4 linked regions of the Homo sapiens genome follow. The protein of the gene in region 1 interacts with the protein of each later gene in a biochemical or structural test. Each region holds a gene or a part of one and is shown on either strand. Other genes may lie near its edges.

Region 1 (7,025 bases):
TTCCAAATGAGGGCCCTGCTCATGGCGGGGCTGGGGGAGGGCCCCTGAGACACTGAGGACGGACAGGGGCTGGCTGGGGGAGTGAGAGAGCATGGGAGGTGGCAGGTTAAGAACAAGGCAATGACTACAACAATGATGCCAACACCTGCAGGGGCACATGAGTGCACAGCCCACTTAACCCTCATCAGGCTCACGGGGGCGGACCGCTTAGTATCCCCACTTCCTAGATGGGAAAACAAGGCACACAGAGCATAAGCGGCTTCCCAGGGTCATGGAGCAGGAGAAAGCTGGGACAGAGGCGGCTGTGTGGCTGCACTACGCTGCACACGTGACACTGGCTCCGAGGCTCCCTGCCAGGGGGTTTGCAGGATGAGCTGCTGGCAACCTGGGGAGGCTGTGCAGGAGAGAAGGGGCTTGCAGGGTTTTGGAGGTGGCGGCATAGGACTGGAGGGGCTTGCTGGGCACAGGCGTAAAGCAAGGCCAGAGCAAGCTGGGCAACCATGCATGGGCCCCCTGGTGGCACAGAGCCTGGGCAGGGCACGGTGGGCAGGTCCCCATGCCAACGAGCAAGCTGCACCTGGGAGGAAAAGAGGGATGAGCGCACACAGGGAAGAAGCAACGCCGAGTTCAGTGCGTTTCTCAGAGAGGTGAGACCCATGCACACTCGATATCCAGGTTCTATCAAAAAGGCTGTTTTCCAAAAACCTGATACACAAGATTACGCATGCTATTTAATCGTGCAGAATAAACTGATTTAGAGAAGGAAAGAAGATAAGTGACAAACATCTCTGACGAAGTGAATCCCAGGAATCCTGAAGATCAGGCACATTTTACGTTTTTAAAGACAGGCGAGAAACTCAGGTGTCCTTCACTACCCACACTCGTGCCAGCTGATCTAGAGCATCCAAGAGACTCAGACGCAACCTCAGATACATTCCTCCAGAGAGATCCGCGTGCCTGCCACTGTGGCCGCAGCTCAGAGAGGCACTGTGAGGGCTGCCCCCTCCCTCGTTACACCACGGGCTCCTCTGCTCTGGACAGGCAGGGACACGAATTCAAGCTTCTGGAGAAACAAACAGAAAGGGGCTCAGGCACAAAACAAAGATTGCGCCATTTGGCTTCTGGGCAAAGAAGGAATAAGAAGGAATCCTCTCTGTCTAAACAGAGACACATGGGCAGCACAAAACAAGAAAACACCAAAATCCACCAGACTAGTCAAGCCAGAGGCCCAAGCCCACCCAAGCCAGCCCCTAGCCCCACGCATCCTGCAGCGCAGCCTCCTACAACACGCCAAGCCCCTGAGTTTTCACCAAGTTCACTGCCAGAGTTTCACAGGTGCAGCTCTGAGGGTATTTCAGCTTTCAATTGGCAACAACAGGTTTCCAGGAAGCCAAACACAAAGCTATGAAGATGTACAACGATGACCCGCACGGCAAGGGGGTAGGTAGCTGCTCCCTCATTTATTTATTTTTGAGACGGAGTCTCGCTCTGTTGCCCAGGCTGGAGTGCAGTGCCACCATCTCGGGTCACTATAACCTCTGCCTTCCAATTTCAAGCAATTCTCCTGCCTCAGCCTCCCAAGTAGCTGGGATTACAGGTGTGCGCCACCACGCCCAGCTAATTTTTGTATTTTTAGTAGAGACGGGGTTTCACCATGTTAGTCAGGCTGGTCTTGAACTCCTGACCTCACGTGATCCGCCTGCCTCGGCCTCCCAAACTGCTGGGATTACAGGTGTCAGTCACCGTGTCCGGCCGGTGTGCCCTCATTTCTGAAGTGACACTTTCACATTGCTGTTGCTATGTAATTTCATAAGGACGTTCCCATTTTCCTCTAAATTGTATTTTTCTAAATGTAACCACTCCCCCAGACAGTGCACATTTGTAAAAGTTCGCTAACACAAACTGACCACAAGAGTCGGTTCTGGGCTTCCAGCGCTGGCTCAGCTTGGTCCAGACAGAAACCCAAATCGCAAGAGCCGGTGGCCTCTCCCAAAAGGTGAGAAAGGGGAAGTGACTTCTGTTTCCACTCCATCTACCTGACTCTGGGAGTGAGGCATGGATTTTCACTGCAGTCACGGTGGCTACATCACGTGATGGGGATGTGTGTTTGGGAACTGTGGGGGTGGGACAGGCGTGCATTCCTGTCTCCTCCAAAGGCAGGCGAAGGCGGGGCACCATCCAGAGCGTGGGCAGCCTCAGAGCCTGGCTGCACCCAGGCCCATTTGTGCTCACCTGTGACGAGGGGTGCTTGTGCCGGCGGCTGCTCCAGTAAGACCATGTGCTGCAGAAGAGGGCTGTGCGCTGCCCCTCCGTCCCGCTCCAAGGGCGAGGTGCTCAGGTAGGGAGTGAGGTGGGTGCCGGGGAAAAGGGAGAGCCTCTGCTGGAGGGCGGGAAGGGTGAGTCTCTCGGCGTCCTGCTGGCCCGCCGTGCCCTGGAAAGCACAGCCAGGATGCTCGGGTGGAAGGACCCATCACCACCACCCCACACCACACGGACCCACGGGGGCTGACTTACCGCAGAGGGGCCGGTGGCAGGCAGGCCCAGCGTGATGTTGGGCAAGGATGGCGATGTGTAGAGGGGAAGTGGAGCGGCCGAGCCTTCTCGTGCCACAAGTCTGTGCGCCAAACTCGTCTGGGGACAGAACACACGATGACCATCACAGTCTGTCACGGCCAAACATCAGCAATATACACCAAGAAAAACAACGATGAAAACACCTGCACTGAATTCTGATATATGAGCGTAAACGTACATGTAACAAATGAGACAGCAATGAGAGCATGAGATTTCAACACGTGCCACAACATGAAAGCACAATTCACCACTCCAGTTTCCTCCTCCCGATACGAGTTCTTCTTCTGTCACCTTGTCCAGCATCATCTCGTTGATTTCTATTCAGTTTGATTATTTACCACAGAACAGTTAGAAGGAAATCTAGGCTAATATAGTTTACAATGCCGTTTTGCAGTTTCTAGGATAATATAGTTTACAATGCTTTTTTGTAGTTGGCAATGTCTTTCCAGACATAACATCAAAGGCAGAAAACAAAAAGGAAATAACATTTAACTGTACATTTAAAAATAACTATAAGGGTATGATTGGATTGTTTGTTACACAAAGGATAAGCACCGGAGAGGATGGACATCCCACACTTCGCATGACGTGATTATTACAAATTGCATGCCTGTATCAAAACATCTCATGTACCCCACAAATATATACATTATGTACCCACAAAAATTAAAAATAAAGAGAAAATCATAAAACAACTGCCTCTACGAAAGGTGGGCAATGATGACAATACTGGCCATGTATGAGGCAGACGAGGGTCAGCACAGAGAGCTTGCAAATCAAACAACTAACAGTGAGAAAAGCACGCGGTGAGGACCAGTGACGGCAGAGCTCAGGAAGGGGAAGGCGCTCAGGAAAACACATCATGGTCATCAAAAAAGGTATTCTGAAACCCAACAAATTGGCAAACACTTTTGAAACATGGTAATACCATCTTGGCCTAGAGGAACGGCGAACACTGTTGGGTGAATCACAAATCAGTTAGTGGCACCCTTTCTGCAGGACAATTTGGCAATCTATGTCAAAGGCCTTCAAAATCTGTCTAACCTTTGATGCTGGAGCTCCACTCTTGGGATGTAACGTTAAGAAATAAGGAGATGGCCTGATGCCCATGAAGCCTCCGCTGCAGGGCCGAGCACCCAGCAGGCATGGCAGAGCTATGCGGCTTCCCCGACACCTTGGTGTTAACAGAACGGAGGGGCATTGCACACCGGGATGCTCTGGGGGTTGGGAACGATCTAGCTGATTACTTGGACACTTGTTTATGATACATTAAGTTAGAAAAACAGGTTATAGATCATGTACCTTTTAAAGAATGGGCTTGGATAAAGCAAACACAAGCCAGGAGTAAAGATTAGAAGGCCACACAGGAAGAGTCAGCAGCAACAGTCTCCAAGGACTTGAACTACTGTGATATTTAACATCTTTTTGCTTGTAGAATGAACGTGTTTTGCTAAAAAGGACAATAGTTTATCACCACTATATCCCCTACACAGTAGCTACTCAAGGAATGTCTGCTGAATGAATGGGCAAACAAAGAGAAGGAATAAAATGTTGTTGTAATCATGCTAGTTAGTGGGGTTTGGCAGATAGAAATCCCCTTGCCAGAAGCTAACGTTAATAATGAATAGATAACAGATTTCATTATACTCTCTACCTCCATGACAGCAACGTTTTTAGCTCCCCCAGATGAATGAGAAAATGCCATGTTTGTCTTTCTGTGCCTGGCTTAGTTCACTTAACATGAGGGCCTCTAGTTCCATCTATGTTGCTGCAAATGTCAGGGTTCTATCCTTTTTGATGGCTGCATGGTATTCCACTGTGTACAGCACCACATTTTCTCTGTCTATTCATCCACTGAAGGACACTGAGGTTGATTCGACCTCTTGGCTATTGTGAAAGATCCATGGCTAAGACCTCAAAAGCACAGGCAACAAAAACGAAAACAGGCAACTGGGACTCTGCTCAACTAAAAAGCTTCTGCACAGCAAAGGAAGAGAATCACCAGAGTGAAGAGACGACCTGTGGGAAGGGGAAACATGTGCAAGCCATTCATCCGACAAGGGAGCAGTATCCAGAACATGCGGGAACTCCAGCAACTCACCAGCAAAACCTGAAGCAGCCAGTATAAAAGTGGGCCAAGGATCTGAAGAGACATTTCCCCAAAGACATATGACTGGCCATTGGGGATAGGAAGAAACGCTTCTCCTGACAAACACTTACACTCAGGCTGTTCCTACAGAACAGAAAGCCCGGCCTTCTCACTTAGGAGCAAACTCACGGCGCACCTCGCCCCAGAGGAAACCCTGCAACTCCCTTTAGATTTGCTCACATATTACATTGTGTAAGGAATGATTAAAGGGCTACTGAGGAAAACATTTTTCCTAGGCAATTTTTTTTTTGTCAAAAGTTAAAGAATTATCAGTAAGTTATGCTGTAGAGGAAATGCTTGTGTTATCATTTGGGAACAAAATAAGGAGACGTTCTAATGTTTGCAAAGTTTTCATTTCCTTTGTAAGCAAGGTTTTTTTTAAGCCCATTTCTGGAACTAAAGGAGGCTTCTGAGAATTTGTTCCTTGGAGATGCCGACTGGTCCACCTGAGAAATCGCAGGGCGTTCTGGCATCTGCTGCCTCGGGGCCGAGCCCTGCGGGAGGCATTCTGAGGCTGGCGCCCCCGGACCGCATCTCAGCATGTGCTCAGAGGGAAAGTCCGCGGGCCTGAGGTCAGAGCATCCAGGCACGCGTGTAAATAACAGCAGCAGCGGCCACAGAGGAGCTGTCCCCTTACGCACCTGGGCGACTTCCTCTCACTCTCTGAGCCCTGCCTCCTCCCTGTAGAGGAGGTGCCGGCACACTGGGCTTCCCTGGCCTGTAGAGGAGGAGGTGCCGGCACTCTGGGCCTCCCTGGCACTGTAGAGGAGGAGGTGCCCGGCACACTGGGCTTCCCTGGGTCCAGGGGGCCTTCAAGGTACAGTAGTGTTTCTAGGGACCCCAGGGTGAACAGAAAAGGCAGTGCTGAGAGCCAGGCTGGGAGGCCCCTGCTCCCCCCACATCCTCATCCACTCGAGACACCCCCTCTGACGGGCAAGCTCACTACACTCTGCACCACGTGAGAACGGAGAGCCAGCCCCTGGCCATGAAGCACAGGTGTTCTCACAGACCCGTCCAACTCTAGAGATACTGAAACCCAGAAAGGGCGCCTGGGTGTGATCCAACATGCAAAGGCTGCCCGTGCCCACTCTAATGAACATCTGATGTGGAACATGAACAATGGCACCTCTTGGTATTTCCTGTAACTCCTTCTACATGTTCTATTAATTTCCAGTAGCTTCATTTACGTATCGTGATTTCTAAAAATTAACACAGAACTGGAATGATGCAGACCCACCCAAACAAGGCACTGTTCCAATATTAACTACCATGTACATAAGTGCCTCATTTTAAATAAAAACATGTATCTAGGACCACAATCAACAAGATGCAACCAGTGTTAACCTCAGGGCAGGAAGTAATTTCTAGGTTGCATTATAAGGCTTATTACTGGTAGACCTCAGCTATGACCACAGCCATACAGAGGACTGTTAAAACTTCTAATCATCTAAATAAGTACTGAAGTTGGCAGGCTGAAGAAGACAGGTAATAAAAGAAATCGATGTATGAAGTAGAAAGAGTAAGAGAAATTGGGGATTAAGCAGCCTGGAGACAAAGGGCAAAATTCGTTCTGAGCAGTAATTCTAGTCTCTAAAAATGTTTATACATAAACGGTCTTGAAATTTGAAATGAAAATGCTAAACACTCATGCCTCTGTATCCCAGCTAAGATTTGCCAATCCTTTGGAAGGGCAGGATTCATTTCTAAATATTTAAGAAGGAAAGTCAATAACTATATTTAATAAATTATAGCCTTCTGTAAGTTGGAGAGAATTCAGAAAGAACCTCCCACTCAGTAGAACTCTGCCCCATGAAGCAGACACAGCATTTCCAGCTCAACTCATCAGAAAACTCACTGCTAAAGCGTACCCCTCCCACCCCTGCCCTGCAGTCAGGCCCACCCAGGCCCAGGGCACCACTCAGCCTGCGGGACTGCCTCTCTCTGCCTCTCTCTTCTTCCCCGTGCTCTGGGGGTGGCCTCTCCTTGTCAGTGGGGCATTGTGTGGAGTGTGGGGCAGGTCCTTGCTGCCTGCCTGGTTCTGTCCCTGGGCCTGGCACAAGGCGCTCGGGACACGTGTGGGATAAAGGCAGGGGGCGCAAAGGAGCTCAAGGAACACGGAGCGAGGTCCTCGGACCTGCTGCCCTGGAAAGCCTCCGAGTATGGTCAGTGTGCGACTCGGCCAGCCTGGGCGCCACTCCTCCCTGCCTTGCCACTCAGCTCCTGCGTCTCTGACATCTTTCCCACCTAGGGACTCCAAGCGTCCCCTGACTCCTCTCTAGCTTGCCAATGTCCCTCCCAGACT
Region 2 (6,409 bases), on another chromosome or scaffold:
ACTTCGGCAACAGCATCCTGGAGTGCCTCAATGAACAGCGGCTGCAGGGCCTGTACTGTGACGTGTCAGTGGTGGTCAAGGGCCATGCCTTCAAGGCCCACCGGGCCGTGCTTGCTGCCAGCAGCTCCTACTTCCGGGACCTGTTCAACAACAGCCGCAGCGCCGTGGTGGAGCTGCCGGCGGCTGTGCAGCCCCAGTCTTTCCAGCAGATCCTCAGCTTCTGCTACACGGGCCGGCTGAGCATGAACGTGGGCGACCAGTTCCTGCTCATGTACACGGCTGGCTTCCTGCAGATCCAGGAGATCATGGAGAAGGGCACCGAGTTCTTCCTCAAGGTGAGCTCCCCGAGCTGCGACTCCCAGGGCCTGCATGCGGAGGAGGCCCCATCGTCGGAGCCCCAGAGCCCCGTGGCGCAGACATCGGGCTGGCCAGCCTGTAGCACCCCGCTGCCCCTCGTGTCGCGGGTGAAGACGGAGCAGCAGGAGTCGGACTCCGTGCAGTGCATGCCCGTGGCCAAGCGGCTGTGGGACAGTGGCCAGAAGGAGGCTGGGGGCGGCGGCAATGGCAGCCGCAAGATGGCCAAGTTCTCCACGCCGGACCTGGCTGCCAACCGGCCTCACCAGCCCCCGCCACCCCAACAGGCTCCGGTGGTGGCAGCAGCCCAGCCCGCCGTGGCTGCGGGAGCAGGGCAGCCAGCCGGTGGGGTGGCAGCAGCAGGGGGTGTGGTGAGTGGGCCCAGCACGTCGGAGCGGACCAGCCCAGGCACCTCAAGCGCCTACACCAGCGACAGCCCTGGCTCCTACCACAATGAGGAGGACGAGGAGGAGGATGGTGGCGAGGAGGGCATGGATGAGCAGTACCGGCAGATCTGCAACATGTACACCATGTACAGCATGATGAACGTCGGCCAGACAGGTGAGGTGCCGTCCTGTCCCCCATCCCACCAGCCACCCCTGCTCCTCCTGCCACTCGCGTGCCACTCTCTCCCTGCAGCCGAGAAGGTGGAGGCCCTCCCGGAGCAGGTAGCCCCCGAGTCCCGAAATCGCATCCGGGTTCGGCAAGACCTGGCGTCTCTCCCGGCTGAACTTATCAACCAGATTGGGAACCGCTGCCACCCCAAGCTCTACGACGAGGGCGACCCCTCTGAGAAGCTGGAGCTGGTGACAGGTGGGCCGGTCTCGCCCCAGATCTCTCCCCTCCGCAGCTTTGGAGCCGGCTGGCCTGGGCTGGGCTGGGCAGCTGGTTAGGAGCCCCCAGCACCTCAGTTTCCCTATCTGTGCTGTAGTGTTGGTAACAGCCACCCTAAGGGTGGGGGCGTTGGTGAGATGGAGGAGCTGATACAGCAAGGCCTGGCCTCTAGGTTTCTGGCTTAAGGGGTCGGGGCGAGCATTGGCTATTATTGTTTGGCCGCATGGGTAGATTAGCTACTTCCCGGGCTCCTGTGAAGGCCAGCTACTACCTAGGTTAGGAATTTGGACAGTCACAGGGGCGAATGCCTGTAGTCCTAGCTACTCAGGAGGCTGAGGTGGGAGGATCCCTTGAGCCCAGGAGGTCAAGGCTGCAGTGAGCTGTGGTGGCCACTGCACTCCAGCCTGGGTGACAGAGTGAGACTTCATCTCTTAAAAAAAGAAGAAGAAGACTGTGTTTGGTCCTTGGGTCAGAGTGCCTAGGTGTGAGCCTCCACTCCCTGTTGGTCCTGCTGAGCTTGGGCTCATCTCTAGCTGGTGACAGCCAGCGTGCCCACCTCACACAGGCTTGCGGCACGACTGGCCACACAGCAGGCACCCCGAGGATGGTGAAGCAACCCTTTCTGTCCTTTCCTGAGCACTGATGAGGTTGGGGGAGCCCCAAGGAGCCTCCCCTGACTGCCCTTGGTGGGTAGAGATGTAGGGGAGAAGGTCCCTGGGTGAGTTTTCTTGGGACCCAGAGCCCAGCAGGGAGGGCCTGGGGTGTTCTGAGATGAGGCCTGGTATCATGGGGGCTGTGGCGGTTTGGGGGCACCCCAGGCCATCCTCCGGCTTCCTCTCACCAGGCACCAACGTGTACATCACAAGGGCGCAGCTGATGAACTGCCACGTCAGCGCAGGCACGCGGCACAAGGTCCTACTGCGGCGGCTCCTGGCCTCCTTCTTTGACCGGTAAGGCCCTTGCCAGAGCCCCAGGGAGGGGGGTGGGGTTTCCCCATGTCCCCCCCACCACCAACTTGAGCGCTGACTCCCTCCATGTCCCCTGCCCCCAGGAACACGCTGGCCAACAGCTGCGGCACCGGCATCCGCTCTTCTACCAACGATCCCCGTCGGAAGCCCCTGGACAGCCGCGTGCTCCACGCTGTCAAGTGTGAGTGTTGGCCCAGCTGGACGAGGCGTGGGCCCGGGGCACGCAGGTTGACGTTTTTTCCCAGCCTTGGCTCTCAGAGAGGGCTAGAGTTCAGTGTTGAGAAGCATTCTGGGGCTCATTCTAGCCTTGCTGGGAAACCGGCTGTGATTGCTTAGAGATTTCTTCGTGTTTGGGGGATGCACGTGCCGAAGGGAAGCCAGGGAGCCTGTGTCAGGCAGGAGGGTCTCGAACTCAGGGCAGTCTGGGAGGGATGAGGCAGCCAGACAGTGCTAGCCACTCGTCATGGGGGGCATCTAGATTTTCAAGTGACCACTCCCCGTTACTAAATTCTGGCAAATGATCCGAATTTTTCAAGAACACGGGGCCATCCCATCAAAACCAACACATCCCCACACATGGCTGAACTCAGTCCGGTGTAGGGTTGGGTGCACGTAGTGTGGTGTCCTGGCCGCGTGGCCTCACTCGTTTCCCCTTTGAGAGGGAGTCGCAGATGCTGTAGGGGAGCTGGTGAGTAGGCCTTGTGGGAGTCACCTGGCCCCCGTGCCAAGGCCGCACCCACCCTGCCCCACAGACTACTGCCAGAACTTCGCCCCCAACTTCAAGGAGAGCGAGATGAATGCCATCGCGGCCGACATGTGCACCAACGCCCGCCGCGTCGTGCGCAAGAGCTGGATGCCCAAGGTCAAGGTGCTCAAGGCTGAGGATGACGCCTACACCACCTTCATCAGTGAAACGGGCAAGATCGAGCCGGACATGATGGGTGTGGAGCATGGCTTCGAGACCGCCAGCCACGAGGGCGAGGCGGGTCCCTCGGCTGAAGCCCTGCAGTAACCCGCCCAGCCTCCCGCGGGGCCACACACTTCCCCTCCCAACACACACACACACCTGCCATCTTGGTCATGAGCTACTGTCTGTCCCTCCCCAGGACCCGCGGTGGGTGCTGCATGTTCCCGGCCCTCTGCCCCTCCTGTCCTACCCCCTTTCCCCACCGAGAGCTGGGCCGGGAGAGGACCGCAGGGCAGGTGGCGTGAGGTCCGTGTTGCCTTCTTTAACACACACTCGTGCAGTGGGGGAGTTCTGGCTCCCCAACCTAACCCCTAGCCGTCATCTCCACACTCACCAGGCCCACCAGGGGAGGGGGCTGGCCTGGGGGTCTTGGGAAGGCCCCTCCCCAGGCCCTAGGCCACCTCGCGGAAGCCTTCAGCCTCCGCCCCTCACTGCAGCCCCTTGGGACTTGAGGGGGGCCCCAGGGGTTCTCAGGACCCCTCCCACCACCTCCCAGTGCTTCCACGTCTCCAAAAGCGCCTTCCTGTCACCCTCGTCTATCCCTGCGCCTGGGGGCTGGGGTAGGCGAGGCCGTGGGGACTACCCATTTTATAGCTGGGGAAACAGGCTCCGAGAAATTGCACAACCGACCTCAGGTGGCCGGCAGTGGCGTGCCTGGTGCCCTTTCTCCTCTTCCGCCTCTGTTGCTCCCTTTGGTCCTCTGGGGCCTCAGAGAGGCAGGTCCTAAAGGAGGGGGGGTCTCCTGGGGGCAGACCGAGGGTCTCGGAGGATAGAATGAGAGGTTTCCAGGGCTGGCAGAGTGTGTGCGTGTGTGTGTGCAGAAGTTTTGCTTTCAAACAAATGAAGATACAAGAGGCAGTAGGACCTGGGTTGGAACCCAGGGGAGCAGACTGGGGGGCTGTTGCCCCTCCCTCCATCTCCCCACACCCACCCCACCCCACAGCAGGGCTCCTGGCCCCCACCCCCCTGTACATAATTTTTAAAACCTTTTTTTAGCGAATGAAATATTGAAGTATAAGATTCCTTTTATTTTTCAAACCAATGGGGCTGTGTCTATTGTCCCCCTCGGTCCCCAGGGGTGGGGGGCCTTGGAAGGCAGGGCGGTGTTGGGGGGCTGGGGGGCAGGCTGAATGTGTGTGTGTGGGTGTGTATGTGTGGAGTGTGTGTGTGTGTTTCCATGGTAGGACTCCAGTCCCAGCTGCTGCCTAGGCTCCTGTGGGTCCTGTGGGTCCCCCTCCCCTGTTCACCTTCCCCAACAGGGCTATAGTTTAAGGGTGTCCCAGGCCTTGGCTGGTTGGCTGGGCCCAGCTCCTGGGGGCTGGGCAGGGCAGGGCAGGGCCGGGTCCACTTCCATTGTTAGCAGTTGTTTGCAGAATTTTCTCTTTTACCATTCCTCTCTTTTTGTTCTCGCCCAGAGTGGGTGGTTTTTTGTTGTTGTTTTAGATTTTCATGTGAAGGCAGTTTTTTTTCTTTTTTAACTCCCCATCCCCCTATGCAGGGTGTCATTTCACCATCCACATCCACATCCTTGTTTGTGTTTCTGGCCCTCGTCCTCCCTGCCTCTCATCTGCCTCCCCAACCCCCACCTACCCACTGCTCCCAGGGGTCTCTCCAGGGGCAGGGGGATTTTAGGAGATGGGGTGGGGGCCAGCCCCTACTGGACCCTTGTAATCTGATTTGGAGACCATCCCCCCGATGGGACCAGCAGCCCCGCCGGCCCACTGGGGGTCCCTCTTAACATCTGCTTGTTGCGGGGGTCAGTCATGAGTGCCAGGGTCTGGCTGGGGTCTTGGCACTGTCTTCCTGGCCGGGGCCTGAAACCTTAGCCCCCAGCCGGCCTGAGTGGGGGATATTGACACCCCCAGCTAAAGCACAAGCACCTTAGTCACCCCTCCTCTCCCCCCGCCTCCTGGCCTGCCACCCCACCCCAGCGTTTACCCCAAAGCACAATGCCCTGGTCACTTGGCAAGCGGCTGGGCCTGACGGAGGCCGAGGGGCAGACCGGGGCTCCAGCCAGACCCCTGAAAGGAAGGTGCTCCCCCACTTCCAGGCCTTAGTTGGGGTGGGGGGGCCAGCTCCTGGGCCTGGGGTCTTCTCACCCCCACCCCCTTGTCCTGGGTAGGCCCCTGCCTGCCCCTCTCTGCCTTTTCCTCGGGTGTCCCTCCTCGAGCCCCTGTGGCATTGGCTTGGGTGGCAGAGCCCACTTGTTTCAGGGACCCCAGGAGGTGCCCCCTGGCTCCCAGGACTGTGTGTGGGTCCGGGGGGTGGGGGGGTGGGGAGAAGGGTCGGGCAGGGGGTGCAGGGGAGGAAACTCCTCACCAGGAGAGCCAAAGACAGGGTTGTGCCTTACCCCAGGAGCCACCCCTGTACCCCCCTTGCCCTGCCATTCACCCTCCACCCCTACCCCTGGGCGGCCTGCTGCTTTTTCCTTCTCTTCCTCCCCTGCCCTGAGCTGCATGGTTCCCCCACCCTGGGCAGCCAGGAAGGAATCTGAATGGAGAATCACCAACCACCAGAGAAAAAAGACTGTGGGGCCCTCCCCTGCCAACTCCCCTTCCCTGGCCGCCCACTCAACCCACACCTCTTTCACGCAGGACAGGCTGCCCACCCTGTCCACGTGAAGTGCCAACGCCCTCCCCACCCTGGGCCGAGCCCCCACCCCTCCCTGGGCCCCCAAGTGAGATTGCACATTTAACTACTGTAAGGAGAGGAGCGGCGTTGGCAAATGTGAACCATGAGAATATCAGTGATACTGATGAGAATAAACTAAACGCCTTTGTAACAGCCTTGCCGCATGCTCGTTACTTGGGGGCCCAGGGAGGAACACACACCTGCATTGTGCCCAGCAGACCCAGGTTGCTGACTGCAAACTGACAGCCTCCGATTCTAACACGCATGCAAGTTACCCCAACAGATACAGATAACGCAACATATGAGCTGGTCCTACACACACACACACACACACAATTTTTTTTTCTTTTTTTTTTTTTGAGATGGAATTTCACTCTGTCGCCCAGGCTAGAGTGGCGCGATCTCGGCTCACTGCAACCTCTGCTTCCTGGGTTCAAGCCATTCTGCCTTAGCCCCCCCAAATAGTGGGGATTGCAGGCACCCACCACCATGCCCGGCTAATTTTTGTATTTTTAGTAGAGACAGGGTTTCACCATGTTGGTCAGGCTGGGCTCGAACTCCTGACCTCAGGTGATCCACCCGCCTTGGCCTCCCCAAGTGCTGGGATTACAGGTGTGAGCCACCGCGCCCAGCATTTTCTTTTCTTTTTTTTTTT
Region 3 (7,025 bases), on another chromosome or scaffold:
CAGCCCCAGAGACCCTCAACTCCAGCCCAGCAGGGACAGGAGGGGCAGAGGAGGGAGAATAGAGGGCCACCCCCTCACAAACCACAGGTGCATGTTCCACTGTCAAAGCCCATCCAAAGGCTCCCTGGCCAGCTTGGGGCTAAGTTGGGAGTCCAGAGGGGCCCCCTTCACCAAGCACAGCTGCAGTGACCACCCGGGATATGCTATGTGCCAGGCCCTGAGCTGAGGACTTCACATCTGCTGTCCACTGCTGGCAGTCACCCTGTGACTGTCCCCATTTTGTGAATTGAGGAAGCTGGGGCTCAGGGGCTTCAGTAACTTACAACCTTGCAGCTGGGACTGCAGACAGCTAGGATTTAAACCCAGGAAAGGCTCAACCCAAATTGAAACAGCTCGTCTCAGACACTGTGGCCTGAGAGAAGGGGACCTGATGGAGGTCAGTCATGCAGAAATGGGTTAAACATGTGACATGAAAAGACATACCTCACACAAGTGACAGGTGCAAAACAGAGGCTTTAATCTGAACAGCAATGAGGGTGCAAGGGGCTGGGAGCCCATAGGGGGATGGGGGAGCCAGGAAGGGCTGTCTGGCCCTGGGAGAGAGGTGGACGCTGGGCCTCTTCTGAGAAACTGTCACTGACCTTTGGGACTCCTGACCCAGCCTCTGCCCAGACCATCACCGGATCCCAGGCTGAGCCCCTGTGCTGTGCTTCTCAGTGCTCCCCCTTCCTGAAGGGTGTGTGGACCCAGACACAGGAGGGGGCAGTGGAGAAGGGCAGGCCTGGGGGACGAGCCTGTAAGAGCCAGGCCCAGGAACAGCCCTAGGAGAAACCTCGGCGGTGGCCCTCAATGGGCCTGCCCAGCCCCCACTGGGCCCATTCTGAGTGCCAAAGCCTGGGCTTGGGAGGCTGTCTCTTACCTCACCCTATAAAAGCAATGGACAGTTCAGGGAGGTGGGAGGACAAGGTGTGGGACTGCCACCTTCTGGGCCCACCCATCACCCAGGGGAGCAGAGAAGCAGGGCCCAGGGGCCCAGGGTGAGGCTCACAGCAGCGCAAAGGTAGCAGAAGTGGCCGGGCCTAAGACTGCCAAGAGGAATCCAGGCTCTCCAGATACAATGGGCCCCAAGCCCCTCCCTGAGTTTCTGCCATCCCCTCCCTGCCAGGGAAAGTTCTGGAAAGACATGCCTCACCCCATCATCTGGGCCCTCCCAGGAGCCCAGCACCTACCCAAAGGGCAGCTTCCATTGGCTAGGTTACCCTTAGGGAGCGGGAGAGATGTGGCTACAGTCAGGAAACCCAGCAGAGCCAAGGGCTAGAGAACTGAAGAGCCAGGGGGAGGCTTGGACACAGGGGGCCTCAGGCCCAGGGGGCAGGGTGAAAAGGAGCCTGGGAGGGGCACCAGCCAGGACAGCTAAGGCCTCTCCACCACCCGACCCCACCCACCCCACCCCAGCCCACAGCTGGCGGCCAGCCTCAGCTTCCAGCCCTACCATAGATGGCCACCCCGGCATGGCCTGGGAAACTGACCCGCCCCTGCAAGGAGCAGCTCCAACCCTTAGAAAGGCATCGACTCCAGGAAGGGAAAAGCAATGGAAGCAGCAGGTATCTCTCCTCCCTTCCCTGCGGTGCTGCAGAACAGCCCCTGCTCTCAAAACCAGACTGGACGGGAGTGAAGGGAGAAGAGGCCAGAAACAGGAGAGAGTGGCCGAGTGACCAGGCCCCAGACCCTCTCTTCTGGCCAGTCTAGCACACGGGAACTCAGAAAACTGGCTACACTTTGGTCACTTCTCCCAACTTGGGCCCTGAAGCCTTATGCTCTGAGCCCCCTCAAGCCCATCTCGCCACCCCACCCCAGTAAACAGCCTCTCATCAAACGGGACGAACAGAGGGAGGGGATGGGGAGGGGCCACTGCTGGGGTGGGGAAGGCAGGCACAGGAACTGTGGCCTGGGTGGCTCTTCGGCTTGGCCCCTCCTAGCCCGACGTGACAGGATGGATGGGCAGCAGGCTCCCGAACTTGAAGTGCTGGATCACAGGGAACTTCTCCAGGCACTGTGAGGAAGGAGCAGGTGAGCAGAGTGGTGAGGGCCACACCACACCCCTGCCAGGACCCCAACAACCGCAGCAGCTCCCAGGTGTCCATCCCGGGCCCAGGAAGTAGCCCCGCCAGGGGATCCCCCAGGCCTTCCTCCCCCAGTTCCTCACTCCTTCTATCCAAAGACACCCACTCCACAACGAGACCCACGAGAGAGAGAAAGAGAAAAGGCAGCCCAAACCTACAAGGTAGAAACCGAGAAGAGAGGCAGCCAGGTGCCATCACTTGGCCCAGAGAGGGAAGTTGGGAACCTGAGGTGGAAAGAACCCTCCTGATCACTGGGGACCCCCAGCCCAGGTCCCAGTTCTAGAGAAGAGACGTGGGGACATTTGAACGTAAGCCTAAGAGGCTGAGGCCGGGTCCCAAAGCCTGTTTTCTCCAGCTTTCAGTTCTCTGGACTGAAAAAGGCATCTTGGCACTTCAGAGCGAGACAATAAGAACCAGCTGACACTGAGTTCCCCCCACCCCTGGGCAATTCCCAGCAGCCTGTGTGGGGGGCAGGGGAAAAAGAGCGCTGAACAGGGGAATGGCTGAGCACGGGGGAGGCCCGACTCCCTGAGCCCAGCCCAGCCCGGGCTCCTAGCAGAGGAGCAGAGCTGGAGAGCAAGTGACAGGGCCTATCACAGAAGCTGGCCTGGCCCACAGGCAGCCAACCCCAGCTTCCAGCTGCAGCTCCCGCAACAGCACCCCCATGCCTGCCACACCTGGACACTAGCTCTCACAGGAGCCGTTCTGGGCATGCGAGGGTTGGATCTGCCAAGACTGACCAGGGCCTCCTCCCACACCTTTGGCCACAGAAAACAGAGTATGTTAGGCACCTCCTGGCTGGGGTGGAACAAGACTTATGGCCTCAGAGAGAGTAAGAGCCTCACTCTGTGGCTGTGATCTTAACCTCCAACTAACTTAGAGACAAACGGGTGCTATGACTGGCCCAGGTTCCCTCTCCTCAAAAATCAGCTGTGGAACCTAAGAGGGAGAAGCACCAGGGTGACGAGTGGGCCAAAGAGGCGCCAGGAGGGGAGGGAAAGAAGGATGGAAACCAAGCTCATGGTGGGGTGGGGAGCAGAGCCCTGGCCACAGCCAGGATCCTGGGCCTGAGACACAGAATGCGGGAGCAGGGAGCGGGAGGTGGTCCCTGGGCGGGAGGGGGAGCAGCCGCAGATCCAGGCCAGAGGCCAAGGCAGCTGCCATGGTGCTTATGTCATCCCAGAAGTGGTCATAAGAGCCCCCCCACCCCCCAAGGGCCCTGGAATTCCAGAAGGGGTCAAAGGTCAACCTCCCTCTAGCTCCCATAGAAGAAGTTGCAAGGCGAGAAGGGGTGGAGGCAGGGGTTCTTCCCATTCTGCCCACAGGACCCCAGAGCCAGCCCCCTCAGAGCCACAGGAGCTGGGCCAAGGAAGCCTAAGGCTCCAGGGCAGGAGGAGCCTCCAGCCCAGCCTTTCTCCCAGCAAGGCCCTCCCATGTACCTGGGCGGAGCAGCGGCTTCAGACTGCCCCCTGACCTTCCAGCCAGAGGTGATTCAAGCTGGGGAAGGGACTCCCTGGGTCCTGACAAGGTCCTTCTGAAGGCAGCACCCACACAGCCATGGCCCAGAGGAAAGACAGACCCTCCCCCCCGCCGCCCCGCAACCACACAAGGCCCCTGAGAGCACTTGGTTCTTCGGTCAGAAAGGCTGGGACAGAGCAGAGTTAGACCCAAATCCTGAGGCCACCTACTGCCAGGCTGGTCAGACTTCTGTGGCAGCCCAGGAGGCTGACTCCCCTCAATCAACCAGTTCTGACTGGAGACCCAGCCTTCCTACCCACCCCTGGACTGCAAGACTGGCAGGCCTTGGAGGGCCTCCTTAGGGGCTAAGAACTGGCCTGAGAAAACAAGCCCTCTCCTTGGACCTCTGTGTAGGCAACATGCCAGCCCATGGGCCCTTCGGGACCAAGGACTAAGGGCTAGTTGCTAGTAAGTTGTCAATGAGTGTTGAACACTGCAAAGACTTGGTGATCTTTTTTTTTTTTTTTCCTGAGATGGAGTCTCGCTGTTGCCCAGGCTGGAGTGCAGTGGCATGATCTCGGCTCACTGCAACCTCCACCTCCCAAATTCAAGTGACTGTCCTGCCTCAGCCTCCTGAGTAGCTGGAATTACAGGTGCGCACCACGATGCCAGGCTAATTTTTGTATTTTTAGTAGACACAGTGTTTCACCGTGTTGGCCAGGCTGGTCATGAACTCCTGACCTCAGGTGATCTACCTGCCTTGGCCTCCCAAAGTGCTGGGATTATAGGCATGAGCCACCGCACCCAACCAGTGATTTTTTTCTTTGAGACGGAGTCTCACACTGTTGCCCAGGCTGGAGTGCAGTGGTGTGATCTCAATTCACTGCAACCTCCGCCTACCAGGTTCAAGCGATTCTCCCGTCTCAGCCTCCCAAGTAGCTGGGACCACAGGCATGAGCCACCACACCCAGCTAATTTTTATATTTTTAGTAGAGACGGGGTTTCCTCATGTTGCCCAGGTTGGTCTCGAACTCCTGGCCTCAAGTGATCCACCCACCTCAGCCTCCCAAATTGCTGGGATTACAGGCAAAGACTTGGTGATCTTTTTTTTTTTTTTTTTTTGAGAGAGTCTCGCTCTGTCGCCCAGGCTGGAGTGCAGTGGCACCATCTCAGCTCACTGCAAGCTCCACCGCCCGGACTCACGCCATTCTCCTGCCTCTGCCTCCCGAGTAGCTGGGACTACAGGCACCCGCCACCACGCCCGGCTAATTTTTTTATATTTTTAGTAGAGACGGGGTTTCACTGTGTTAGCCAGGATGGTCTCGATCTCCTGACCTCGTGATCCGCCCACCTCGGCCTCCCAAAGTGCTGGGATTACAGGCGTGAGCCACCACGCCCGGCCTGACTTGGTGATCTTAAAGTCAGGGAGTTCCAGCGTCACCCTATACAGGAGCCTGTCCCCTTCCCCACACAGCGCCGGCCTCAACTAGGGCTAGAATCTCCCTTTTTCAGATTACTAGAGAGCTCCCCCATCCTGAGTTGGTCATTTTCAGTGTCCTCTTTGTGTTTGCCACCCTGTGCTCAGCCCCCACGGAGACCCCGACAGCCTGTGCAGAGTGGACAGTCCCTGTGTTCCTGCCACACCATCACCATTTTCAATCCGAATATGCTCCTCCCTCATCCTCTGGCAGCCTGGAGTTCTTTTGTCTCTGGAAGGGCAGGTGAGAGAAGGGGACAGGGTCTCTTGCCCTATCCTTTGGGCCTTAGAGCCTGAGTCGAGAGAAGTTTAGAGTCACTTGAATTAAGAGGCTTGTAGAGAAGACAGTACTTCAGGTACCAAGCAGAGAAGGCAGCCAGAGTCCTCTCTTTGGCACACAAGGGTTGGGGTTGGGAGGTGGCTGGTGGGCGATGTGCACCTCTCACATGCTCAGACACCCTGGAGGCGGGGCACAGCAGAGTGAGAGTTCCCCAGCAGCCCCCACTGTGGGACAGGCGGGGGTGGGGTCAGGAACATCAGGACACCAGAGGGCAGTGACCCAGGGCAGAGTCGGAGTGGAGAGCCGGGGGTGGCCAGCTGCAGCCGGAAGGAACCTAGGCAGCTCCAGCCAACGGGCTCTCAGGCCTCTCAGATTAGAGAGGTATGTGGGCTGGAACCTAAACACAGGATGTGAGGTCCAGAGGAAGGGGACCAAAGGGGGAGGGGGCGGAAGGGAGTGAGGGCCCGGTCTGTTCAGTTCAAGCCTCATTAACCCCTTCAGGACCAAGTGCAGGGAGCCAAGCCAACTGGAAGCATCTGTGCTCCCCCACCCCGCTGGCCTCTGGCACCCTTCCCCGTTGTCCCGCCTCTGCTGATGGGATCCAGGAAGCTCTGGGTCCAATGAAGACCTGGAGCAGCCCCTTCCCAGAAGAGAAGGCCGGCCAGGAGTCAAGAGATGGTGCCCACAGTACAGTGTCTGAGGCCATGAACTAGTCACAAGGGCCAGCCTGAGAACAGAAAGAAGGGACTTTAAGGACCCATCACTCCAGGTGTGGAACTTCACATCCAGCCCTTCCCTGGCCAAGGTCAAGCAGTTCTAGAATTAGTCTTCCCAGGAAGTGGGAGGAGCTAGCAGAAGGGACAGAGTAGAAATAAAATGTCTCCTCCCCACTTGGAAGAGAGAAAAGGCCACCTCCTTGGCTGGGAGAACAGTGCCAAGAGGGCAGGAGACACCCTCGGCTGCCTGCCAGCAGGGGGAGCTCCAGGAAGCCTCAGCTCTCCTCTCCTCAGCATCTGATTTGAGAGCAGGGAAAACCATTTGCATCAAAATCCCTGAAGCGGTCCATAAAAATGCCAATTCTCGGCCTACCCTCAGACCTCCCACCACTCAGTGATCATACACACTAACATTTGAAGGCAGCACTTTGGAGATGCCTCCAAAGGGTAAGACCCTTCCCAGGTATGCCATGGGAGAGCCAGACTCAGACTGCCCGAGCTTTGAGGAGCCTTTGGCCACTTGATAAAGGAGAAGGGAGGCCCCCATCGCCCCCACTCCCCATGCAGCAGGTCCTTGCCTCAGCCTCCAAGCTCATCAGGACAGAGCTGGACTGCAGCTTTTCGGGGCTGGGGTGGCTGGTGCTTCTCTGACTGCCCATGCCCCAGATGGGAGATTCCGAGGCCCCAAGTGTCAGAGGGGCTGGCCTAAGATTCAGAGCAAAACAGTGGGGTAGGAGGAAGCAGGAGCCCCAGGTTCCACATCTTTTGCTTTGTCCCCAGCCCAGGACCAAGTGCGGCAGCAGGGACGGGCACACTGGCCAGCCCCCACTCACCTCGGCCTTATACATGCGGATGAGACCCTGGTTCACTTTGGACCAGGAAGGGACGGCGCTGATGTTCCACAGCTGGTTGGAGTGCTCTGCAAATGGGCCAGTCTTCATCTGAAAAAGAGAAGCCACAAGCTGAAGAGA
Region 4 (7,025 bases), about 230 Mb from region 1:
GTGGGGTGGAGAGGAGACAAAGTAAAACCACTTTCATAAGTCTAAGATATTTGCTTTTTTTCCACTGTCATTTTCTCACAAGTGGAGTTTTCCAGAAGCTACAGGAGGTGGAATACTACAATAGGTTGAATGAAATGCAATGCCGCTATTCTCATTCAATTTTTTGTTAAAGTTATTTTATTTTCTAAAAAGGGGTCCTGAGATCAAATTTGTGAACCACTGTCCCAGAGTATGGCCAATTAAGACGTCTTACACAGCATCTGGTAACTCCATCAATCTACTTAGCACTCATCACCCAAACAAAAAAGTGATGGTGCCAGTGATGTCTCCTAAGTGGGGATCAATACCGTTCTATACATTCTCGTATCTTGAGGATAACAAGACACAGGCTACACACTATCTTCTTGCTATATGTATTAAAGACACTCAACCAGTGATGTGAAATATCATAACCCCCAATACATGGCAACCAACAATTACAGTGAACACCCCCACATATCCACCACCTGGATCTTACCATTAACCTTTTGCCATACTTGCTTTTTCAGATACCCATACATTTCTAGCAGTTACAAGCTGAAGACATAAGTACAGGCATATCACTAGTTTTTTTTCAAAGCAAAATTTACATACAAAATGCACAAATCTTGGGTGTACATTTGCTGAGTTTTGACAAATGTATAAAACCCAAACCCATATCAACTAAAGAATACAATTATCCATTCTACTATAAAGACACATGCACACATACGTTTATTGCAGCACTATTCACAATAGCAAAGACTTGGAACCAACCCAAATGCCCATCAACGATAAACTGGATCAAGAAAATGTGGCATATATACACCATGGAATACTATGCAACCATAAAAAGGATGAGTTCATGTCCTTTGCAAGGACATAGATGAAGCTGGAAACCATCATTCTCAGCAAACTAACACAGGAACAGAAAACCAAGCACCGCATGTTTTCACTTACAAGTGGGAGTTGAACAATGAGAACACATGGACACAAGGAGGGGAACATCACACAGCGGGGACTGTCAGGGCGTCGGGGGCTAGGGGAGGAATAGCATTGGAGAAATACCTAATGTAGATGACGGGCTGATGGGTGCAGCAAACCACCATGGCACATGTATACCTATGAAAGAAACCTGCACGTCCTGCACTTGTATCCCAGAACTTAAAGTATTAAAAAAAAAAAAAAATACAATTATCCCAGAAGCCTGCCCCTTCCCAATCTCTGCCTATTCTCCCACAGAGGCCATTATTCCTGATTTTTTTTCCTACCATAAACAGGTTGTGTTTGTTCTAAAATTTCATATAAATGGAATCACATACACTATGTACTTTTTCATGCAAAGTTTCTTTCACCTAGCATGTTTTTGAAATTCAATCATATTGTAGTATCAGTGGTCCATTCATTTTAATGCTGAATAGTATTCCATTTATGAATACATCAGTGTTTATCAATTTTCCTACTAGTGGATTATTTCTAGTTTTCTGCTCTTAGAATAAAGCTGTTATTAACATTTTTGTACCTATGCGCCTTGGCCCCATGCATCATTCCCTCTTGCGTAAACACCTAAGAGTGGAATTTCTAGGGGAGGAAAAACTTATAATAGGGAATTTTAAAGGTACACAGGAGAACAAAGAATAGTACAATGAATTCCAATTAAAGCCAGCTGCAACTATATTAATTCATAGACACTCCTGTTTCATCTGTATTCCCCCAATTACTCTGAAGTCCTAGGTATTATCATCATTTTGTCTTTAAATACTCAATATGCAAACAATAGTTTCAAATCTAGTAATTTATCATATTTATCACTGACTTATCTATGGATTAAGAGTTTAATTAAAGTAGCAATGGATAAACTTTGCTTCTCTTCACATCTTTTAAATGATGTCTCTCTACCACCTCCCTGATATCCAGAAAGTCAGTGGTATGAATTCAGATACGTTTTCTGTTGCCATTTGGAAAGGATTAGTGTTAAATACAAAAACTGGTCTTAATGATAAAAATAGAGAACATTACCATAGCCAACCAGATTTCCCAACTGCCAAAGCAACACCTTGACTGAACTAATCCCATGCTATGGTATCATGTTCTAAATGAAACTACATGAGACTTAAAAATACTAGTTTTCTTAAGCAGTCCTTTGTGAGAAGGGAGGTGGTCCTCATACATCCAATACTGAACAAGGAGATAAGACGTTAAACCTTCTGGTCACCAGATTTTTGTTAGCCTTAAAAACTTGCTTGTGCTGGAAAGGGTTAGGGGAAATGAATGACCTTCTCAACCACTGCTGATGACAGTGTATACACATACCTTTTCAGAAGGCTATCTGGAAAAAACCGCACATCTTTTGATTTGGAAATTCCACTTCGAGAACTTAAGTAAATCCTAGCATAAAGCATGCAACAACGATCTTCTTCCCAGGGGTTGTTTGGAGAAAAATTGTTGACAGTGTTCACCACTGCATTAAAAGTCTGAACCACGGCCGGGTGCAGTGGCTCACGCCTATAATCCCAGCACTTTGGGAAGCCGAGGCGGGAGGATCACCTGAGGTCGGGAGTTTGAGACCAACCTGACCAACACGGAGAAACCTCGTCTCTACTAAAAATACAAAATTAGCCGGGTGTGGTGGTGCATGCCTGTAATCCCAACTACTTGTGAGGCTGACACAGGAGAATTGCTTGAACCCGGAGGCAGAGGTTGAGGTGAACCAAGATTGCGCCACTGCACTCTAGCCTGGGCAACAAGAGCAAAACTCTGTCTCAACAAAATAAATAAATAAATAAATAAAATTAAATTTAAAAAGTCTGAACCACATATGCCAAGCTACTATGAAGGAGGGGAGGAGATTTGCCGTTCATCAATTTTCACTGCATCTAATAGATTTCAATATAATTGCAGTCTGTGCGAAGTCTTTAAAAGAGCTCAGGGCTTTGGAGACAACTATGAAGAAGTGGCACTTTGAAAATATAGGACCCGGCCAGACACAGTGGTTCACGCCTGTAATCTCAGCACTCTGGGTGGATTGCTTGAGCTCAGGAGTTCAAGACCAGCCTGGGCAACATGGCAAAACTTCATCTCTACAAAAAATACAAAAATTAGCCAGGCATAGTGGCAAGTGCCTGTAGTCCCAGCTACTCCGGATGCTGAGGTGGGAGGATGGCTCGAGCCCGGGAGGTGGAGGTTGCAGTGAGCCCAGATGGCGCAACTGCACTCCAGCCTAGGCCACAGAGCCAGACTCTGTCTCAAAAATAAAAACAAATCAAATCAAACCAAACAAAAAATAGGACCCACTGAATAAGTTTCAGTAAGGTGAACTGTAGAGTTTGAACAGCATACACACAATAATGACAAGGGGAAAAATGACAAGTCTAGCTAGACAAGAGGTTCAGGTAAGATATCAACACGTTAGGAAGAAGCCAAAGGACAGCATGACACAATCCAATACAACTTAATACAGCTCATTTTATTTATGGACTAATCCAAGGCATCTCAACCTTGGCATTATTGGCATGGGGGGGGCTGGGGTCTTCGTTGGGGAGTGTCCTGTGCACCGCATGATGTTTAGTAGCATTCAGGCCTCTCTACCCACTAGACGTGAGCAGCACCTTCCTTCCTCAAGTCTTAACCCAAAAGGTCTCCAGATGTTGCCAAAATTCCGCTGGGGGCAGTGGGGAGTGGGTAAAATCACCTGGTTGAGTGACACGAACCTAACCTTAAACTTACAATATTCTATTTCACTCTTTTTTTTTTTTGAGACAAGAGTTTCGCTCTGTCGCCTAGGCTGGAGTGCAATGGCACAATCTCGCCTCACTGCAACCTCTGTCTCCCCGATTGTAGCAATTTGCCTCAGCCTCCCAAGTAACTGGGATTACAGGTGCCCGCCACTACGCCAGGCTAATTTTTTGTATTTTTAGTAGAGATGGGGTTTTATCATGTTGCCTAGGCTGGTCTCGAACTCCTGACCTCAGGTGATCCACCTGCCTCGGCCTCCCAAAGTGCCAGGATTACAGGCGTGAGCCACCATGCCCAGCCCATTTCATTCTTTAAAAAACAACAACAAAAACCTTGGCTGGGGCACATCTCTACCAAAAATACAAAAAATTAGCCAGGCATGGTGGTGCATGCCTGTAATCCCAGCTACTCGGGAGGCTGAGGCAGGAGAATTGCTTAAACCCGGGAGACAGAGGTTGCAGTGAGCTGAGATGGCGCCACTGTACCCCAGCCTGGGTGGCAGAGCAAGACTCCATCACAAAAAAAAAAAAAACCCAAACCCCCCAAAACTCTTGCCTTTAAGCAGCCTACAATCTAAGGGCAAAACCCACAACGTCAATGAGTTTTTAAATCTTATTACACTATTGTGTGTATAAGAAAGTCTTCAATATTACAGACTAGGAGTTTTGCCCATCACAGGTCTACCTTCCTCGTTAGAAGCATTAATGTCTTATATTTATTAAAATGCACAAATTCCTCAAAACAGAAATTCACACCATGGTCTTAAGTGAGCTGCCATGTACTTAGGGCCTACTGTGTTTCATGTCATAAGCAGTTACACCACTTGGGTTAAAATCCTTGCTCTTAACACTTACTAGCTTTGTAATCTTGACCACATTACTAACTTCTTTATGCCTCATTTTCCTCAACTCTGAAACAGAGATACTATCAACCTACCTTAGGGGAGCAAAGTGAGTATAAAGTGCTTAAAATAGTGTTTAGTGTGCAGTGAATACCTGGTAAATGTTAATTATGAGCCATTATTCTAACTACAAGCCCATAAAGGCAGGCACCATCATCAATTTACAGAAGAGAGAGAGTCTGAGGGATTAAGAAATTTGCCAGAGTCCACGAAAATAAAAGGTAATGGAGCAACGATTCAAAAATTGATTCAGAGCCCATACTTTTTCCACTGTGTCAATAAAATCACATTCAGATTCATTAACTATGAAGAAAAACATATCAGTCTTACTAAAAAATAATGAGCAGCGTAAGACATTTTTTATTGAGATTAAATTTAAACACAACTAAATTCAAGCATACTACTCAATTAAGGTTACAAAGCTTTTACACTAAGACAGACAACTTCCAGAGATTCCCTACATACTATTTTAACTCTCATTTTTAAAAATTGCGATATGCACTTTAGTTTCTGAAATTGTTTATGCATTATGCTGAAGTAATTTACTGAAATTCTACTAGAACTGATGTACAGGAGAGGATAATATGATGTCTAAGATAGAAATTATCTTGTATACACTCAAACTGCCTGGTTCTTATTCCAAGGTCACTGACTTTGTAAATGACAGATTTTGTTCCCAAGTCCCAGAAGAGCTTTGTGAACCCCTCTAACTTTTTCCATTTGCCCTTCCCTCACATCCAAGTTCTTCTTAATGACTCCTAAACATCTTACCTGTAATATTTAAGCCCAGGGTTTTGTTTTTGTTTTCAGAGTCTCGCTCTGTGGCCCAGGCTGGAGTGCAGTGGCACATCTCGGCTCACTGCAACCTTCGCCTCCCAGATTCAGGTGATTCTCCTGCCTCGGCCTCCCGAGTAGCTGGAACTACAGGCATGTGCCACCACGCCTGGCTAATTTTTTTGTATTTTTAGTAGAGACGGGGTTTCACCATGTTGGCCAGGCTAGTCTCCAACTCCTGACCTCAGGTGATCCACCAGCCTTGGCCTCCCAATGTGCTGGGATTACAGGCATGAGCCACCACATCCAGCCAAAGCCCAGTTTTTTTGTGTCTAAATTTTGCTCTTGCCAACACTCAGTAAGATCACCAATGACTTCTGCCTCACTTCTTTCTGAAGCCATTTCCCTAAAGTCACCAGTTTTCAACCTGTCATGTATTCTTCAATCTGGACTTTAAAAACTACTCATTTAAGAGGTGGAAGGATGTCAGAGCAGAGCAGAATGGCTAGGACCTGCATTACTCTACAGCCCCAAACCATGAGAACTCGAAGAGACTTAGAAAGTTAAGCCCAAAGTCTTCGGTTTTACAATGACACTGAGAGACAGCTCTAACTGGATGAAATCTTAACTCCCCTCATCTTAGAGAGTTTGGTTCACTTATAGTTCTTTACTCTTGGATTTTAACATTTTTTTGTGCTTCCACGGTTCAGTAACCTCTTTCAATACCGTGATTATCAAAAGGGTTGAGAGTTGTTCACACAGTTATTTTGAATACATGGTTTAAGTAATTCTGCCCCAACCTACTCTATGAAAGGGAGGAGGCTGAGAATATCTGCTCTTTTCTACCAAAAATTTAGCTATCCTTCATGTTACTTTAACTAGTCTTCTATAATTACCAAGTTAGTCTCACCTCCTCCACACCAAATCTTTCTTCCTGTTCACCAAAGGAAAAAAAGAAAACCCTATGTTAGCACGCATGTTCAAAAACTTTAGGTGTTACTCTACTTTCCTAGACTCCTTATTAAATTACTAACTCATCAATTATCACTTGTCTTATAACTTCCTTATCTGTCAGTTCAGATCACAGACTGGTTAGTCAGCCCTCAAACCACGAATTCTAGATGCTGCTACATGTACAGTGGTGCTGACATCTGTAATCCCAGGACTCTGGGAGGCCAAGTCATGAGGACTGCTTGAGGCCAGAAGTTCAAGACCAGCCTGGGTGTAACAAGATCCCATCTCTACAATAAATAAATAAAACTTTAAAAAAACCAGTTTCCCATGAACCAAATGAAGAAACCCCCCTTACTCCAATCTTCTATAAATGATGATGGCTGCCTTCCTTTCCAGGCTTGTCTCCTGCAGCAACTCTGCACATGAACTCTGCTCCAGCCACACCGACACACTGTTCCCCGAACAAGCCCTACCCCGGATATTCCTTTAATACTGACACCTCCGCCAGCCTCTTCCCTCAACGTTCACCCCAAAAAAACGGTATCTTTGTGAAGCCTTTTCAAAGGTTTCTATTTCCTTCAGACTACATAGCATTGTGTTCATTAACCATCTGATGGGAATATTGTGGTATTTATGTTTGTGT

The links.
Region 2: the proteins of HDAC4 (region 1) and NACC1 form a complex in vitro, tested with the Homo sapiens proteins (2 studies listed by BioGRID).
Region 3: the proteins of HDAC4 (region 1) and PTPA form a complex in vitro, tested with the Homo sapiens proteins (one study listed by BioGRID).
Region 4: the proteins of HDAC4 (region 1) and YWHAQ are reported together in a solved structure, tested with the Homo sapiens proteins (2 studies listed by BioGRID, with this or other methods).

What each region holds. Positions count from the first base shown.
Region 1 is NC_000002.12:239,132,013-239,139,037, forward strand, and holds part of HDAC4 (histone deacetylase 4), read right to left. Parts: intron 2,632-7,025; coding exon 2,515-2,631; intron 2,432-2,514; coding exon 2,233-2,431; intron 2,227-2,232; exon of another isoform or gene 1-2,226. UniProt on the Homo sapiens protein: Responsible for the deacetylation of lysine residues on the N-terminal part of the core histones (H2A, H2B, H3 and H4).
Region 2 is NC_000019.10:13,135,239-13,141,647, forward strand, and holds the end of NACC1 (nucleus accumbens-associated protein 1), read left to right. Parts: coding exon 1-915; intron 916-993; coding exon 994-1,167; intron 1,168-2,032; coding exon 2,033-2,138; intron 2,139-2,239; coding exon 2,240-2,337; intron 2,338-2,908; coding exon 2,909-3,168; 3' UTR 3,169-5,909; downstream 5,910-6,409. UniProt on the Homo sapiens protein: Functions as a transcriptional repressor. Seems to function as a transcriptional corepressor in neuronal cells through recruitment of HDAC3 and HDAC4. Contributes to tumor progression, and tumor cell proliferation and survival.
Region 3 is NC_000009.12:129,142,415-129,149,439, reverse strand, and holds the end of PTPA (serine/threonine-protein phosphatase 2A activator), read right to left. Parts: intron 6,996-7,025; coding exon 6,888-6,995; coding exon of another isoform or gene 6,540-6,887; exon of another isoform or gene 2,054-6,539; coding exon 1,976-2,053; 3' UTR 494-1,975; downstream 1-493. UniProt on the Homo sapiens protein: PPIases accelerate the folding of proteins. It catalyzes the cis-trans isomerization of proline imidic peptide bonds in oligopeptides. Acts as a regulatory subunit for serine/threonine-protein phosphatase 2A (PP2A).
Region 4 is NC_000002.12:9,620,991-9,628,015, forward strand, and holds part of YWHAQ (14-3-3 protein theta), read right to left. Parts: intron 1-7,025. UniProt on the Homo sapiens protein: Adapter protein implicated in the regulation of a large spectrum of both general and specialized signaling pathways. Binds to a large number of partners, usually by recognition of a phosphoserine or phosphothreonine motif.